2 separate regions of the Homo sapiens genome follow, and region 1 is linked to region 2. The links come from fine-mapping of genetic effects on gene expression. A gene starts in region 2. The other region holds a variant in brackets. All regions are shown on one strand. Distances are between the middles of the regions. Region 1 overlaps RNF8 (ring finger protein 8). Region 2 holds the start of RNF8 (ring finger protein 8).

Region 1 (8,267 bases), 36 kb after region 2:
CTCTAAAAAATGGATCCTCTTTCCCTCCTAACGTGTAATTTTATCATTTTTCATACCTACTTCCAGGAATGTCTATTGTAGGAGACTACCTGTGCAAATATAGAGTAGCGTCATTAACCAAAGCAGCTTTTCTTTGAGTTTCTTGGTTAACCCTAGATGAACACTGAGTATTTTTAGAGCAAGCTCAAATAAGTTGATATTCTATGAACTAATCATAGAGAATGGCTGATTATACCTTATCAGCTGGATATATATTCTGTCCAACTGCCTACTGCTATGGTTCTTAAGAAATCTGATATAACTAGACATGCTCCTTTTCCTGGCTAGGGCTTCTACTTCAGTTACTTTCTGTATCCTGGAGAGTTTGGACTGCTTTTACACTTGTCTCATTAAACTTGAGCCAGAACCAACCCCAAAGAAATATCTCTTACTTGCTTCCTTTCTTCTGGGTCTTTCCTTTTTTTCTGTCACCCAGGCTGAGTGCAGTGGCATGATCTCAGCTCACTGCAAACCTCCGCCTCCTGGGCTCAAGCATCCTCCCATCTCAGCCTCCCTAGTAGCTGGGGCTACAGGCGTGCGCCACCATGCCTGGCTAATTTTTTGTATTTTCTGTAGAGATGGGGTTTCATTATGTTGCCTGGGCTGGTCTTGAACTCCTGGGCTCATAGGATCAGCCCACCTCAGCTTCCCACAGCGCTGGGGTTATAGGCATGCGCCACCACGCCCAGTCCTGGGTCTTTCCTTTTTCTTAGCACCTACTAAATGCTAAGTGCTTGGGGATAAAAGCAAAGAGGGCATGTGCAGTCTCTCCCCTCATGGAACTTTTGCTCTAAGTGCAGGCCCTAGGTTCCTTATAGTAAAGTCCTACAATATGAGAAATAAAGGGTGCTAAGTCAAGGAAAGGCTTCCCTGAGTCAGTGAAGGACATGGAGTGTATTTTAGGTGAAAGGACAAGAAGCAAAAGCAAGGGGTTTTTAGGGGCTGAGAGAAGTACAGAGTGCTAGAGAGAATATTGAGCATTCAGCCTGGAAAAGTTGGCAGGACTGGGTCATGCAGGGTGTTACAGACATGTTGCAGAGTTAGTCTAGGGGCAGGGGGAAACAGAAGATATGAAGTGGAGATCTGACTGTTGATGTTTGTGTTTTTCTGGATAGGTTAGTCTGGCTGTAGTGAAGAGACGACATGGTGCTGGGAACAAGAATAAAGGCAGTAATCATGGCCAGTGATGATGGTGGCTAGGTTAGAGAAGTAGCAGCAGGGATGGCCAGAGTGGATAGATTCAAGAGGTAGTTAAGGAGGTAGAATCCACAGGTCTGTGGGACTGATGTGCTGTGGGGACTGCAAGGGAGCTCAGATCATGTCTAGGTTTCTTTCTATTGGGGCACCTGAGTTGATGATGATGCATTTACTAAAATAGGAGTAGTTGGAGCAGACAAATTTAGTTTTCAACTGGAAAGTTTAAGGCACCTGAGGACATCAATGGAGCTGTTCAGTGGTTATTTGAATGTGTGGATCTGGAGCCTGAAGGACAGGCCAAGTTGAGATTCTAGGTTTGGGGATCATGAGCCATGGAAGTGGATGAACCACTGTTACCGTCTCTGTGGTATTAAGAGCCAAAGGGCAAGTTCTTAGCCATGAGAAACACCAACATTAGGGGATGAGTAGTAGAAGAGGGGCCTGCAGGGCAGACTGATGAATGGCCAAAGAGAGAGATGGAAAAAGAGGGATGTGGGGCAGGGATGTGGGGCAGGCAGAGCTGGCACATGCCTGTCCTCACAGCTACTTAGGAGGCTGAGGTGAGAGGATCACTTGAAGCCAGGAGTTCAAGACCAGCCTGGGCAACATAGTGAGACCCCCATCTCAAAAAAAAAAAAAATTAGGCATGATGGCATATGCCTGTGATCCCACCTACTCAGGAGGCTGAGGCTGGAGCATCCCTTGAACCCAGGAGTTTAAGTCTCCAGTAAGCTGTGACTGTGCCACTGTACTCCAGCCTGGGCAAAAGAGCCAGACCCTATCTCTTTAAAAAAAAAAAAAGACATTACATGGTGTCCTTTGAGCCTTCCTGGCCACACTCTTGTCTAGGGTAGATCCCCCTCATTACATTGCCCTATATTTCTTTGAAAGCATTTACCAGATTGAAATAATATTTGTTAGTGTACTCTTGCCTCTAGATTTCCGAACTCCTTGAGGGCAGGAATTTTATCTTTCTCCTTGTAGTATTTTCAGGGCATTGAAGAGTGTTTGGCACATGGTAGCTCTTCAGTAAATATGTGTTTATGAAGAGTTATAAAGTGAGAAGTCAGCGTTTGAAATGCTGCTGAGACATTAAACAAGATAAGGATGAAAAATTGCCCATTGAGTATGCAGGCATGTGGGATATCGGTGACTTTATCTAGTATAAGTTGTGGGGGATGGTGGAGTCAGAAGTCAGTTTACAGTGATTGGGGAGTGAGTATGAGGTGAGGAAGTACAGAAAGAATAGATAACTTCTTCACAAAATTTGGCTGTGACTAAGATGGGGAGGACCACCACCAAAAGAAGGCTGTATTTGGAGGAGGAAGTAGGGTGAAATGGGGTTTTTGTTGTTTTTTAAAGACGAGATTTGAGCATGTTCCATTGCAGATTGAAAGGAGCCTGTACAGAAGGGCATGCTGGAAAGCCAAGATAGCAGGTAGGGCATGACTCGTTGGAAAGCAGGGGAAGACAGGGAGTACAGAGCTCAGAAAGCAATTAGTCTTTAAGAGGAGAAGTGTGCATTCTTTGTTTTATAGAAAGAAGAGTATCGTGGGGGGGTGGGGCAAGGAAGTTTGCTTGAGGGGTGTCCAGAGAATTTCTTTCTTGTGGCTTCTGTATTCTTCTGTGAGCTAATAGTTGAGGCTGTTAGCTAAGAGGGAGGGAACCCTACTTGGTTCTCTCTCTCCAAGGCTGAGGGCATGCCCAGCCCCAAGGCCCACCACCTCAAAGGCTACCCAGAAGTGGGAGACGAATAACTTCTGTAGTCCTTTCAATCCCCCTAACAAAGCATTCCAGAATTCAGTCTCAGAGAAAGGGGACAATTTGGTTGGTGACTTTATTGTGCCTTTGGCATAGGCCAGGATTCCCACAAGGAAGCGGACTATTGGAAAAGCCTGGAGGCTAGTAAGTAAACAGCCTTTCTTGTCCCCTCCCTCTCTGAACACAGGAAGAATTCCCGCCTCTCCCTGCCTATTCCTGTATATAATTCATTCCTTTCTTTAACATCTTTAACAGATATATTGAGGGCCAGATTTGTGCTAGGCACTGTTCTAGATGCTGAGAATGTAAAAAGTGAAAATCTAAGTTAGATGTAATTAATGCTATGGAGAAAAATCAAGCAAGAAGGGGAGAAGGGGTGATGGTGAAAGCCTTGGCAATTCTTGATAGGGTAATCAAGGAAGGCACCTCTGAGCAGGAACTATTTGAGGGAAGCTCTGAAGGAGGTGGCCATGCTGCCATGTAGGGAAAGAGGGAATGGTAAGGGGGAGCATGCTGGTATGTGGGAGGGGCAGCAAGGAGGCTAGTGCTGGGGAGTGGAGTGAGCGCTGGGGAGTGGGTAGGAGAGGAAGCTTGAGCAAGACGCAGATTTTGTAGGGCCTTGTAGGCCTTTGAAAGGACTTTGACTTTAACTCACTGTGAGAGGAATGAGGAGTGGGCTTTGAGCAGAGAGTGACATGATCTGACTTCTGTTTTCTCAGTTCGCTATGGCTGCTGTGTGAGGAAGAGACAGGGTGGCGAGGCTGGAAGCAGGGAGTCCACGGAAGGGAAATACAGGCTCCTCATTTATTTATTTCTCTTCTTTTTCTCCAAAGCAAAGAGATTGTTCTGAAGACCGTGCTCTAAGGGCATTTGAAAGACTGCCAGGTAGTGCGAGCCTGAGATGGTCTGGAGGATTCTCTCTAGCCGTGACTCCGCTGCTCTGAAGGTCAACTGAGAAGTCTTGTGGGACAGAGACTTGAGTTAGGAAGCCCTCAGTCACTTGCCTTCCACGGTGGCCAGCCCTGCTGCCATCATTGGCTGAAGCACCACCAGGATTCACGGCACCCAACTGCTTCAGGGTACTTCGTAGACTCTGCCTCACTACATGTCGAAAGAGTTATTTGAGTTCTCTTCTGTTTTTTTTTAATTTGTTGTTGTTGTTACTGTTTTGATACCTCGGAAACACCTCCGTTGACAGTTGTTTTGGATAGGTTGGGTGTACCCCATGGCTGCCTCTGAAGGCAGTGTCTATTTTGAGAGGATGGCTTACCTCTTCTTTGTGAAAATACTATCTCATTTCCTGGAAATAAAATGTAAAACCTGTCAGTTGCTCAGCTGGGCTTTGGTGTATTTACCTTCCTTCCCTTCCTGCTCCCAGACAGTCTCACAAGTAAACACCAGCAGCTCATAGATTACAACCAAGAAAGTGACTGTATCAGATGATAGACTTCAAGTGAATGTCAGCCTAAGAGGCCAAGCTGCAGATCGTGGCAACAGATGAGCTCTGTTAACCTCCTGACTGTCGTGTTTCCTTTTT[A/G]TTACAGAGGTGGGTCACTGTTTACCTTGTTTCAGGGGTGGGAGAAACTCCTTTCCTTCAGCTGGCATTTGAATGTTTCCAAATCTATTTTATCTGACGTCATGAACACACAGGCAATGATTTTATGACAACTTGATGTGCTTTTTTCTTTATTTTTCTTTTACATTAGAAGTTTTCTCTCTTTTCTCCACCTCTCCTTTATTTTTAATTTTAATTTTAATTTTTGAAACAAGATCTGACTCTGTTGCCCAAGCTGGAGTACAGTAGTGCAATCTCAGCTCACTGCAACCTCCACCTCCCAGACTCAAGCCATCCTCCCACCTCAACCTCCCAAGTAGCTGGGACTACAGGCATATGCCATCACACCCAGCTAATTTTTGTTTTTCTGTAGAGACAGGGTTTCACCATGTTGGCCAGGCTGGTCTCAAATTCCTGACCTTAAGTGATCCACCTGCCTAGGCCTCTAAAATGCTGGGATTACAGGCGTGAGCCACCACGCCCAGCCTATACCCCATGTATTTTCATAAAGGGTTGGAAACTATTGATTGCCAACTTTTTAAGGATGGTAGGGATTTTTTCTTTGTTGAATATACTGTGAATTTTGGGATTCTGGAGTCCTTAGTCTTCATTTCCATTCTTCTGCCCATGATTACTGATCAAAATACTGGTAGAGTCATGGAGGAAGTAAGTTAAATGTGGAAAAAATGCTTTAAAAGTACTTACTATAACCACATCATAAGAATTCTGGAAAAATAGAGAACAAAAGGAAAAGATTGTTACCACCTTGATTTAATAACTTCTTGTTTCCCCATACATGTGTTTTGTTTATAGATTGCATGGGTATATGTCAATTTTTATATGTTCTGTGTTTAGTTTACATATTGTAATTCATTTTTAAGAGAGTACAGACATACACTTTTTGAGTAGGCAATATGTTCACATAGTTTGAAATTAAAGGTACAAAATGGCGTAGAATGAAATGCCTCTCACCCTTTCCCCACAGCGACTACTTCCCACTCAGAGGCAACAAGTATTACAGTTGCTTGTATATTCTTCCAGAGATCTCTGTCTATACAAGCAAAAACACATGTGGTCTTTTTCCTTGCTTTGCACAAATGGTAAACTGTACGCTATTCTGAACCTTGCTTTTTTCAGATATATGTTGGCAACAGTTCCATGTCAGTACATAGTTTCCTTTCTTTATTACAGCTGCCTGTTTTTTCATTGTGTATTTGCACCATCATTTACTTTTCTGGCTTACTTTTGATAGAAATCTAGGTTGGTTCAAACCTTTTTACTCTTAAAACAATGCTGCAGTTAACACCCTTGTACATATATCTTTAGAGAGAAGATATTTTAAAAAGAAATACCTTTTTAAAAATTATTTTATTATTTTTTAATAGAGACTATGTTGCCTAGGCTGGTCTTGAAATTCTGGGCTAAAGCAATCCTACCACCTTGGCCTCCCAAAGTGCTGAGATTACAGGCATGAGCCATTGCACCTGGCCAAGAAGAGACATCTTGACTTGAGCCTGAAGACTATGTACAGAGACTGACCTCACAGACTGACCATTCCATCCCACAGCTGCTGGACATAGAGTGATTTGCAGCCCCTCCTTTCAGAGTACCACATCCCTCTCAAGTGTTCCACAACATCTAGGAAAGTGAGCTCTTAAAGACAGACTAAAAAGAGTAATAAATCAATACAACAACATTAAAAGCCAGACTAGCGGAGTTTGAATCTTGGCCCTGCTGTTAGTAACTGTGTGAGCCTTGGGCAAGTTACTCAGCCTCCTTGTGTCTTGGTTTTGGTTTCTTCATCTCTAAGTAATTATATCTGTCATTATTGCCCTGATCACAAACAAAAGCCTGAATGTACTATGTTTAAAAGACAAACCAAAAATTAACCCAAACTTGCATTATTTGTCTGAGCTACAGAATGTTCTTTCCTTGGAGAGATATCTGATATTAAACATCATCTGCATTTTACTTGCCTAGAAAATACACGGTAACTTTTCTGCCTTGCAGCATCAAACTATAGTACAGCTGAGCCCCAGTGCTGTGCAGTCTGACTCTAATTAAAGGCACCTTCTTTACAGCAGGGCTCTGGGGAACTGGAAAAGGGGGTTTGTTTCATTATCTGGTTTTATTAAGCAGATGAATGCAGCCAGCTATATGAAGCACTTTGCAGTGAATGGCAGGTGTCCCATATCTGGTTATGTTAACCTAGAAAGGGCTCACTCTACCTCTAGGCATGTTTCATCCCAACAATCAGACTGTGCCAAAGCAGGGGACTTTGTCCTTTGTGGATTGCATAGCTGGATACCCATCATCTGTTTCTCTGATTGGAAGCTGCTGTTGTACAGAAAGACCTGCATTTCCCCCTTGTCTCCAGTTCTCTCACTACTTTTTCCTCCTCTGTGAGTGACCATCCAGGCAGTCACCATAACTGCTGGAGTGTCTGGGATTGGTAGCTCTCTCCAACTGCCTGCTTGCTCTTTACAGCCTCTCTCTGTGACTGGAATCTCTCCACCTCATCGTATCTAAGGATAACCCAGAAACATGGGGTGTCCTAGGTATGTTTATCTCGACACTGAACCCCCTAGGCTTCTGATGAATCCAGTGATTAGCTAAATTTGACATAGAAAGTAAGAAGGAATGTCTACTTTGTATTGTGGTCCTAATCTAAGATCAGGAGAATCCTGGAATTGTTATCTGTCTCTTGCTCTGAGATACAGACTTGTTCATAGGTGTGGGGCCTGATTGGAACAGGATCTGCCATTGGTCACAATAGGTCAAGGGCTTGTTCTGAACCCTAGTTAGCTTCATTCAGAGAAAGAAACTTCCTACCTGGTCAGCTTTTTCAGCTTCTCCAACAAATGGGAGTTGAGGCAGTAGGAGTGTGGGGTTCTTGGGAAGACGATGGGGCCTTGTATTAAGGAGAAATAATGAACTATCTTCTTGATTCTTCCATTGAGAAAAGCATATGAATCCTAGGAAAGGGCTCAGCCTGTGATAGGCATTCAATAAATACTCCAATGCTGTCATTCCTTTGTCTACAGCATCCCCAAACAATGTACCAGTGATGGGCTACCTGAGCTCATCTAGTCGCCAAGCAGTATCTCCTGCTTGCTGCTGCTTTACTACATTCCAGATGCCCACCTCATCCAATTTCCAGAGCCACTATCTCTGCTGTCCACTTTCCTTCAGGCTCTGTGAATACTTCAACCTGCTGTGATTTGGGGCCGTTTGTACTCTGCATGTATTCAATAAATTCAATTCAGCAATAGTTATCAAATGCCCATTTTCTTACTAGGCACTGCTCTAGGTGTTTGGTATGGCAATGAGCAAAACACAACCATTGTGAGCTGATGTTCTAGAAAGGTGTCAAAAGCGTTTCAAAGGTTTTATGAGATGCTGTGGGAGGGGGTTACGCACTGCTACCTACTGAGGTAGCAATGTTGGGTGTTTCCTCACATTCCTCAACCTCCACGCAGGAGATCCAGCAGGCTACGCTGGCCCATCCCAAGATCCAGAACTGGCGTTTCACATCTCTAGGACCTGGGTAGCCCAAGCCTTTGCAGCCTGCTGCTTTTACCACCACCCACCGGCCCTCAGGATGTAGGGACCAGTTCCTTAGAGATCAAGCTGTCCTGGGCCTCTACCCAGCTCTACCCAGGGGCCTTCAAGGGCATCTCTGTGGCAGGTTTCAGGGCAAGTTTGGCCTTTTAGC
Region 2 (9,309 bases):
GGCCTGGCACAGTGGTTCACGCCTGTAATCCCAGCACTTTGGGAGGCCAAGGTGGGCAGATCATCTGAGGTCAGGAGTTCAAGACCAGCCTGGCCAACATGGTGAAACCCCGTCTCTACTAAAAATACAAAATAAGCCGGGCGTGGTGGCTCATGCCTGTAATCCCAGCTACTCGGGAGGTTGAGGCAGGAGAATCGCTTGAACCCAGGAGGCGGAGGTTGCAGTGTGTCGAGATTGAGCCATTGCACTCCAGCCTGGGCAACAAGAGTGAAACTCTGTCTCAAAAAAAAAAGTAAGTTTACAGTGGAGAAACCTGACAAACACTACCTAGATTTCCAAAGCCTAATTTCCTAACCATGGTTGCAATCCCAACCTGGAACGTTTTATCTGTGTGGTACTGTCATATCAAGAAATAAGAAATGCCAGGTGATCGAGATGAACACCAACAATGATAGTTCATGTTGATAACACGTACCCTGGATATGATGCCATGAGAATGACACTTTACCTATGTGGTCTTCCATCCCCAAATCCATAACCCCAGTCTAATCATGAGAAAAACATCAGACAAATCCCAGTTGAGGGACATTCTACAAAATATCTGTCTGGTACTCCTCAAATTGTCGAGGTCATCAAAAACAAGGAAAGTCTGAGAATCTATCACAGCCAAGAGGAGCCTAAGGAGACACACAGACTAAATGTCAGGGTGGCTTCTAGGTGTGCTTGCTGTTCCTGGGGTAGAATGCTAAGGTGGGGTGGGGGCACCAACAGATACCTATGCACAGCTTAGGGAAGCATCTCCATGAGTGCAGCTATGACTTTCACCAAAGTTCCTGGCCCTCTGTGATGTCAGGGCCTGCATTTCTTGATCTGACTGCACAACACAGATAAAATGTTCCAGGTTGGGATTGCACCCATGGTTAGGAAACTAGGCTTTTGAAACAGACTTGAATTGACATCCTACTCTGCCATTTCATTTGTTACTTTGGGAAGATTACCAAAACCTCTCTGTGCCTCTTTTCTCATCATCTCTAACATAGGGATTATAATTGTAACCACTAATAACTGGCTAATTTTTCTTTTTTCTTTCTGTTTGCAAAGGACAAATAAAGTATGTAGGGTGCTTCGCCTAGTACCTGGCACTTAGCACTCAGTAAATGTTAGCTATTTACTATTGTACACTGTGTAATTCATTTAGTGTATGTATTTTCTTTTCTTGTTGTTTTGTTTGTGTATTTGTTTTTGAGACAGAGTGTTGCTCAGTCACCCAGGCTAGAGTACAGTGGTGTGATCTCAGCTCACTGCAACTTCTGCCTCCCAGGCTCAAGGGATCCTCCCACCTCAGCCTCCCTGGTAGCTGGGATTACAGGTGCTCACCACCATGCCCAGATCATTTTTGTATTTTTACTAGAGACAGGGTTTCACCATGTTGGCCAGGCTGGTCTGGAACCCCTGACCTCAGGTGATCCACCTGCCTCGGCCTCCCAAAGTGCTGGGATTACAGGCGTGAGCCGCCACACTTGGCTGTGTGTGTGTTTTTTGTTTTTGTTTTTGTTTTTTTTGTTGTTGTTGTTTTGATGGAGTTTCACTCTTGTTGTCCAGGCTGGAGTGCAATGGCGAGATCTCGGCTCACCGCCACCTCTGCCTCCTGGGTTCAAGCGAGTCTCCTGGCTCAGCCTCCTGAGTGGCTGGGATTACAGGCACACGCCACCACGCTGGGCTAACTTTGTATTTTTAGTAGAGACGGTGTTTCTCCATGTTGGTCAGGCTGGTCTTGAACTCCCAACCTTAGGTGATCCGCCTGCCTCGGCCTCTCAAAAGTGCTGAGATTACAGGCATGAGCCACCATGCCCAGCCCGGCTGGTTTTTTGACAGAATTTTATTTAGGAAAATTGTTTTCCTTCTTTCCCCTTGTGCAAAAAAAAAAAAAAAAGAGAGGAAGAAGGGAGGAAGGAAGGAAGGAAGGAGAGAAAGAAAGAGAGAGAAAGAAGAAAAGAGAAAGAAAAAAGAAAAGAAAGAAAGAGAAGGAAGGAAGGAAAGAAAGAAGAAAGAAATTGTTAACTGGGTGTTGGAAAACTGAAAAGACAAAAGGGGCTCAACCATTGGATGTACTCACTGCAGGCAGCAGCTATCACACTATATGGAAAATCCAAAGGAGAGGCTGAGTTTAAAAACAATTTTTTAATTGGCCGGGCTCGGGGGCTCATGCTTGTAATCTCAGCACTTTGGGAGGCTGAGGCGGTTGGATCACTTGAATCCAGGAGACACGGCGAAACCCGGTATCTACCAAAAAATATAAAAATTAGCCGGGCGTGGTGGCGCGTGCCTGTAATCCCAGCTACTCTGGAGGCTGAGGCAGGAGAATCTCTTGAACCCGGGAGGCGGAGGTTGCAGTGAGCTGAGATCGCACCACTCCAGGCTGCACTCCAGCCTGGGTGACAGGGCGAGACCCTGTCTGTAATCAGTAATAATAATAATAAAATTAACAGCTTTATTGAGTATAATTTACATGCCATAAAATTCACCCACTGGAAGTTTACACTTTCTTCACTTTACAGGGTCTCACTCTGTCGCCCAGGCTGGGATGCAGTGGCGCCATGTCGGCTCACTGCAACCTCTGCCTCCCGGGGTCAGGTGATCCTCCCACCTCAGCCTCCCAAGTAGCCGGACTACAGGTGTGCACCACCACACCTAGCTAATTTTTCTTTTTTTTCTTTTTTCCTTTCTCTCCCTCCCTTCCTCCTTTTTTTTTTTTTTTTTTTGTAGATACGGTGTCTCCCCATGTGGCCAGGTTGGTCACAACTCCTGAACTCAAGTGATCCGCGCGTCTCGACCTCCCAAAGTGCTGGGATTACAGGCGTGAGCCACTGCGTCCGGCCACACTTCCATGACTTTTTAATAAACTTATACAGTTGTACAATTGTCACCACAATCCACTTTTAGAACATTTCTATTACCGCTTTCCTCCAATTTTTTCAAGCCCATCTGCATTCAATACCCGCTCCCACACCTCGCCCCAGGTAACTGTGCTCTTTGTCTTTGTAGATTTGCCTAGTGTAATTTATTTTTTACTTCGGTAATATAAGTAGGTCGTGCAAAATAGAGACTATTTAGCAACAGACTAGGCAGACTTAAATCCGATGGAAAGTTTAAAGTTGTTTAAAAGTGGGCTATAGTTTCACATGACTTTTTTAAAAAGAGGAAAGGTGAGAAGAGGTTCCAGTCTGGGGCGGCTAGGACTGGGGTGATGGTTCTGGAGGCGGCGAGGGAAGGTGTGAGGCGAGGAGACCTCTCGAATCGCGCCCGCCCCGCCCAGGGCCGGATTGGCTCCCAACCCACCCTCTTTGCTCCAGGGCGGCCGCCGTCCTCTTGCGCAGGCGTAGTGCTCCTGCTTCCTGGCCGAGGGCGGGCGAGCGGAGCCTGCTTTCGCAGCGATCGCGAGCGTGTGGCGATTGCTTCTGTCTGTTATTTAGATATGGAAGCTGAGGGGATGCACAGAGGCAGCCAGAACCTAGGTCAGGGTCTCGCTCGGTGCTGACCGCCCCCGGGGTCGAGTAGGCGATGGGGGAGCCCGGCTTCTTCGTCACAGGAGACCGCGCCGGTGGCCGGAGCTGGTGCCTGCGGCGGGTGGGGATGAGCGCCGGGTGGCTGCTGCTGGAAGATGGGTGCGAGGTACGGGGGAAGGGGTCCTGTGGAGCGGAGGGCAGGGGCTGGAGGGAGCGGGGCTCCGGGGAGGGAGGAAGGTGTCTTGCTGGGCTGAATGAATGGCAGAGAGGAGGCGGGCATCAGGAAGAGGAGCGAAGTGTCTGTGGGGGGGGTGGATTCCTGGGGAGAGAAGGGAGAAAGCGGTTCTGGCGCGAGCGGCTGAAGGGTCTGCGGTGGGAGGTGTTTGGGGGAGAAATAGGGGCCGAGTGGGAGAAAGGAAGAAAAGAGAGTTCGGCTCTGGGGAGCCCGGGGGGGCCACAAGGGTTGGGGCGAGGACGGAGGCCCTGACCCGCGGCCTGTGGGGCGAGAAGCGGGCCCCGTCCAGAGAGGCCTGGGTCAGCGGGTAGCTGGGCCGGGGACTGGGAGGAGAGGGACGCGCAGGGAACGTGAGGAGATGCGGGGGTGTCGAGGAGGGGAGGGCGGGGGCTGGCCAGATCCCGTTTAGGGCGCACAGAGCCCCGCGGTGCCAGGTCGGGGAACGGTGGCGGGGGCCGCGAGCTGCCGGGAAGCCGAGGCAGGGCCCGGCGCCTGAACTTTCTCGAGTTTGTTTTGAAAACGATTGCAAATTTTGGGTTTTGTCCCTTAAAGCAATCAAACTTTCACGTAGAAATGTCTTCCTCCTTCCCAACTCTGAGGAACATGGGCGGCTTGGGCTGGGCCACATTTCTCCTGTGAGGCTCGGTACGGCCGAGTGGCACTCCCTGAGGTGGGTCGGGCAGGTATTCAGAGTTCTCTCCAGAGGCTGCCTGTCGTCTTTATTAATGCAGTTGCAAATGAAAAATATTTTAAGGGGAAAGATGAGGTACCGTTCCTGGCACGGTTCAAGATGCACCAGCGTGGTGCATCTTGAAAAGACGAGGGAAGGGAGGAGGGAGTTAGATTGCAATCAGGTTGAGAAGGAGAACTGGGTCAGGGACAAGCTTGTGATGACTGGGAACCATTTGGGTTTTGGAAATAATCTGTATGAAAAGTTCTCTTTGCAGTAAAAGTGGATGGTTGGTCATGATGTAAATTCAAGAAGTATTTTGAGTCTCATGTGTGTTCAGGTAGATTTTTCCTATAAGCCGTACTGCCTCAATTCAGTCTGCCAGGTATTTACTGAGTATTTAACATTGTTTGGTGTACAATGAGGACAAATAAAATTTCTGCGCTCGAAGAGTTTAAGGCTTGAGTGGGGAGAGAGGATTTATACAATGAAGCAGTCATCGTATAAAGAACATCCATATGGGCTGTATGATCAAGTGCTAAGATTTGGATTATTTAGTTCCTTCCCAGAGCAGTAGTTCTTCAAGTCAGAGGAGGAATTCATGTCTAGGCACAAATTTAATTGCTAGATTAGGGAGTGTTATAAAGGGTTACTTGTATGCTGTGGTTTGAGGAACACCAAGAAAACATCTCTGCCTCCAAATACCTCTTCTATCCAGGTATTAGTGCCTAAAAGTCCACATTAAGCATTCATTCTTTTAGCTTGAGCACTGATCTTTCCCTGCCTGGCCCTTTCCAACAGCATATGTTTGTGGGAAGTTTAACAAATTAAAACACGAACACCTGAATAATAACCTGAATAATACACACAAAAATAAATTATTTTTGTGCATAACTATTAGTTAATTTCACATACATTACTTAATCTGATCCCTGCATACACACAACCTCATAAGATAACTCAGTGGGCAAGTGTTATTCCTTTAGATTCAATTGTTGTGGATTAATTTATGACTTCTGAATAGCTTGTCAGTACTGCAGTCTTGGGCAGGTGGGATGGGGAGGACGAATTAAAGCACCTGAAGAAAGGGCAAGAAGACTATAAAGCAGTCTTAGACATATTCTAAACCATTTGATAGTTCTTTATGGGGCCAGTTGCATGGGGAGGGACCCATATAAACTCAGTGGTAAGACTGTGGCTGGCTTCAGGGACCTGTGTGTAGGAGAAGCCTGCCAGGCTTGGCTGCCTGCAAGGTCAGGTCGTAGCATAGCCTGAAAAGAAGTCTGAATCAAAGGCAAGAGAAGAAGTTGTACTTATTGTTATGGTCCCCAAATCATAGCACAAGCTGTTTTGCACAAGATTTTAAAAGATACGCTAATAACATAACAGCAAAGGTAGGTCAGTTCCCTGCCTTTCCAGTTCTTAGTCTCAGATGTTGTGGATAAAATAATAAAACAGGGTTCCTTTCATTTCATTGATGGGAACACTGTAGTAAATTGTCTAATTAAGTGGCTTTAAGCTTGTTAAAGCAATGCATAGAGTTTGGTGGAAAAACAAGTAGAGATTTATTGCAAATTAGCTAGTTCTCAGGTACTATAAAGTATCTAGGCCTTTGGGGAAAACAACAGAACCTTCTCTCCCCTTTTCTTCTCTTGTATTTAGTTTTCATTAAGTTTTCTGCCCCAAGGGAAAAAAGGGAAAGGATGGTTATATTTACTGGTTTGGGGGCTTTTTTGTGGGGTGTTTTGTTTTGAGACAGAGTACTCCTTCTGTCACCCAGGCTGGAGTGCAGTGGTGTGATCACACCTTCACCTCCCTGGTTCAAGTGGTTCTTCTGTCTCAGCCTCCGAAGTAGCTGGGATTACAGATATGCACCACTATGCCCAGTTACTTTTTGTGTTTTCAATAGAGGTGGGGTTTCGCCATGTTGGCCAGGCTGGTCTCGAACTCCTGGCCTCATGTGATCCGCCCGCCTGGGCTTCCCAAAGTGCTGGAATTACAGGTGTGAGCCACCACACCTGGCCAGATTTACTTGTTATTTGAGAAACAGTAGGAATTGTGCCCAGGAGGAAAGAGATAGTCTTAGTGAAGGTGGGCAAAGACAGGATGATCTTTTAGATCAATAATGTGTGTAAGCTCAAAGGCTTGCAAAACTATTGTAAATGAAAACAACCCCTCACATATGGGTCGTCAGTCAGTTCCCACGGGAAATTCAGTGTTATGTTGAGTGGTCCTGAGATTTCCAGGTAACCTCACTGCACTCTTTAACTACAGTATAGGTGAAATATCAGTAGTACCAAGGTAAATTCTAAGACCAGGCAGTGCAGGGAAGGATGTAAAAGAATGATTCCTTTTTCTGGGTTCAGAGTCTGTTGGAGGCAATGTCAGGAAAAGGCACTCTTCTACTGTTTTGGTACTGTTTTCCCCTGGCTACTCACAATGGCAGTCTGGCTGTCTCCCCTCAAGTATTAGCATGTAATATGAGATGCTTCCTCTCTTAGAGATAAAGCTACCTAAATAGAAATTTTACTGAATATGGACGACAGATAAATCCCTAGCCATTCCATTTTTAACAGATATGTGTATTCAGAGGAACTTCTATAATTAATATAATTCTGGCAGAGTGTGAAAGAACTGAAAAACTTTGTGCTCAGTGTTGGTGGAGTGATCACCACAACATTTTAAAGAGAAACAAGTGAGACTGTATGAGTTCCAACTGCTGCTCCATATTTTCCAATGGTAATACAGTCTCTAACTTCTGACCTAAAAACACCCACCCTAAAATCTTGAGGACTCATATGCAAGACCTCTTTATTCTTTCATTCATTCTCAAATACTTAACTGAACACTATGCCAGGTATAGAAACACAGTGGTAAACAAGACAGATAAAGTCCCTGCTTATCTAATTTATATTCTATTACGGGGACAGAGGGGAAAAGTAAAATAAACAAGATAATTTTGGTCTGTGATAAGTACTTCCTAATAACTGAAGAAATATGATGGGAAGCAGACAACCAACTTTAGACAGAGGTAATCAGAGTAGGCTTATGAGTAGCTGGAACATGAAAGATAAGGAGCCTGTGCAAGATCTGAGAGAAGAGTGTTCTTAGCAGAGGGGCTAAGTGAAAAGACCCTCAGGTAGGCTGGCACTTCGGGGAGATGGGCTTAAGGAACAACAACAACAAAAAAGTTTGAGGGGCTGGAGCAGCTAGTGTTGGCACTATGGTATGAGTTAAGACTAAAGAGTAGAAGGGCTCAGGACATTCAGGGTCTTATAGGCCATGGAAGGAAGTTTGAATGATTGGACAGTTTTAAGGAAAGAAGGAAAATGACCTGATTTAAAATTTTTACATTTCTATTCCAGTTACTATTATAAAGCTTATGGGGGCTAGAGTGAGAACAGAAACAGTAGGAGGCCAGGTGGTTTGGACTAAGGCTGTGGCTGCAGAGATAGGAATGAACAGACTTAGGACATATTTGAATTATAGCCCATATAATTTACCAGTGATTTCAATGTGGGGATGAGGGACAGAGATGAATCAAAGATGGCTTCTGGGTTATGGGTTGAGTAGTTGGTTGGATAGTATTGTGAATACTGAGATAAGAGTTTGTGGGGAGGAATAGATTAGGTCAGTGAGTCGTGGTGGTCTTTGAGGGACTGAGGAGGACAGGCATTCTGAAAGATTTTAAAGAGAAGAGAAGAGGGCAGTTTTAGCTAACTTTGGTTTAAAGTTCCCAGTTAAGGTTGTGATATGGGACATTAAAGAGGTCGTTTGTGCACTAAGAAGAATATGCAGGGAGCCGGGCGCGGTGGCTCACACCTGTAATCCCAGCACTGTGGGAGGCTGAGGCAGGCAGATCACTTGAGATCAGGAGTTCGAGACCAGCCTGACCAACATGGTGAAACCCCGTCTCTACTAAAAATACAAAAATTAGTTGGGTGTGGTGGTGCGTGCCTGTAATCCCAGCTACGTGGAAGCTGAGGCAGGAGAATTGCTTGAACCCGGGAGGCAGAGGTTGCAGTGAGCTAAGATCGTGCCACTGCACTCCAGCCTGGGTGATAAAGCAAGACTCTCTCAAAAAAACAAAAAAAAATTAACAAACAAAAAAGAATAAGGGAATTCTGTGATCTGGAACTCAGAAGAATTTCATTTCCTTCCTTCACAGGGTTGTTATGAACTAGACTGGTCCAACAGGAAAGTATGATAGATGTGAACTGGGGCTTCTTTTCAACCTTTTCCGGAAGCTCTCAAGCTGTTCTTGTGGATAAGACAGAGAATATGTACTCCAATGCAAAGACTTTTGGTTGAATTATAACTGGCTGAAGGTATATCCAGATGGTGTGGGTTAATGTTTACTAGGTTTTCCTGAAAACTTTGCCTTTGGCTGCATCCCATTCTGTGTCTTGAACGAAGGTATAGAAGGCATCATCTCATAAATTTGGTGGAAGAGATATTAAGTATGTCTGATCTGATGGCAGATTAAAAATTCAGAAAGGTCTTGACAAATTGGTTTGATAGGCTGAACTAGCAAGATGAAATTTAATAGGAATCAATCTAAGGTCCTGCGCTTGAATCCAAGGTTTTCCATCCAGTCAAGTATAGAGCAGAAGAGACAGGACTTAGGATAGCATTTCTTGGAGGAGGGGGAGACCAAGAAATTTAATCATTCCTAAGTTCGAGGATACACTGGCAGTGTACTAGATCTGCTATGAAAGCTAATGCAATTTATATGCTCCAGTGATAATATCTAGAACTGGGAAAGTAACACTTGCGTTTGACTGTGTAATAGAAATTAAGTTTATTTTTCTTAATATGCCATCCAGGAATAAAGATAAACCAGCAGTCCCTTCACAGACTCATTAGAATGGCAAAGGCTCAAGCCCATCCCCTGGGAG

The links. PIP is the estimated chance that this variant, and not a neighbour inherited with it, causes the effect.
Region 1: its variant is fine-mapped to the expression of RNF8 in sun-exposed skin (GTEx, PIP above 0.99).

The regions. Positions count from the first base shown.
Region 1 is chr6:37,386,912-37,395,178 of GRCh38, forward strand. RNF8 (ring finger protein 8) reads left to right here. Exons shown (of 8, transcript NM_003958.4): 8 at 3,831-7,823. The coding sequence ends at 3,847. Among named protein-coding and RNA genes, the nearest start is that of RNF8, 37 kb to the left of the region's middle. The variant A/G (reference allele first, on the strand shown) is at 4,535.
Region 2 is chr6:37,350,604-37,359,912 of GRCh38, forward strand. RNF8 (ring finger protein 8) reads left to right here and starts at 3,380. Exons shown (of 8, transcript NM_003958.4): 1 at 3,380-3,672. The coding sequence starts at 3,562. RefSeq lists a silencer at 3,233-3,332 and an enhancer at 3,633-3,682.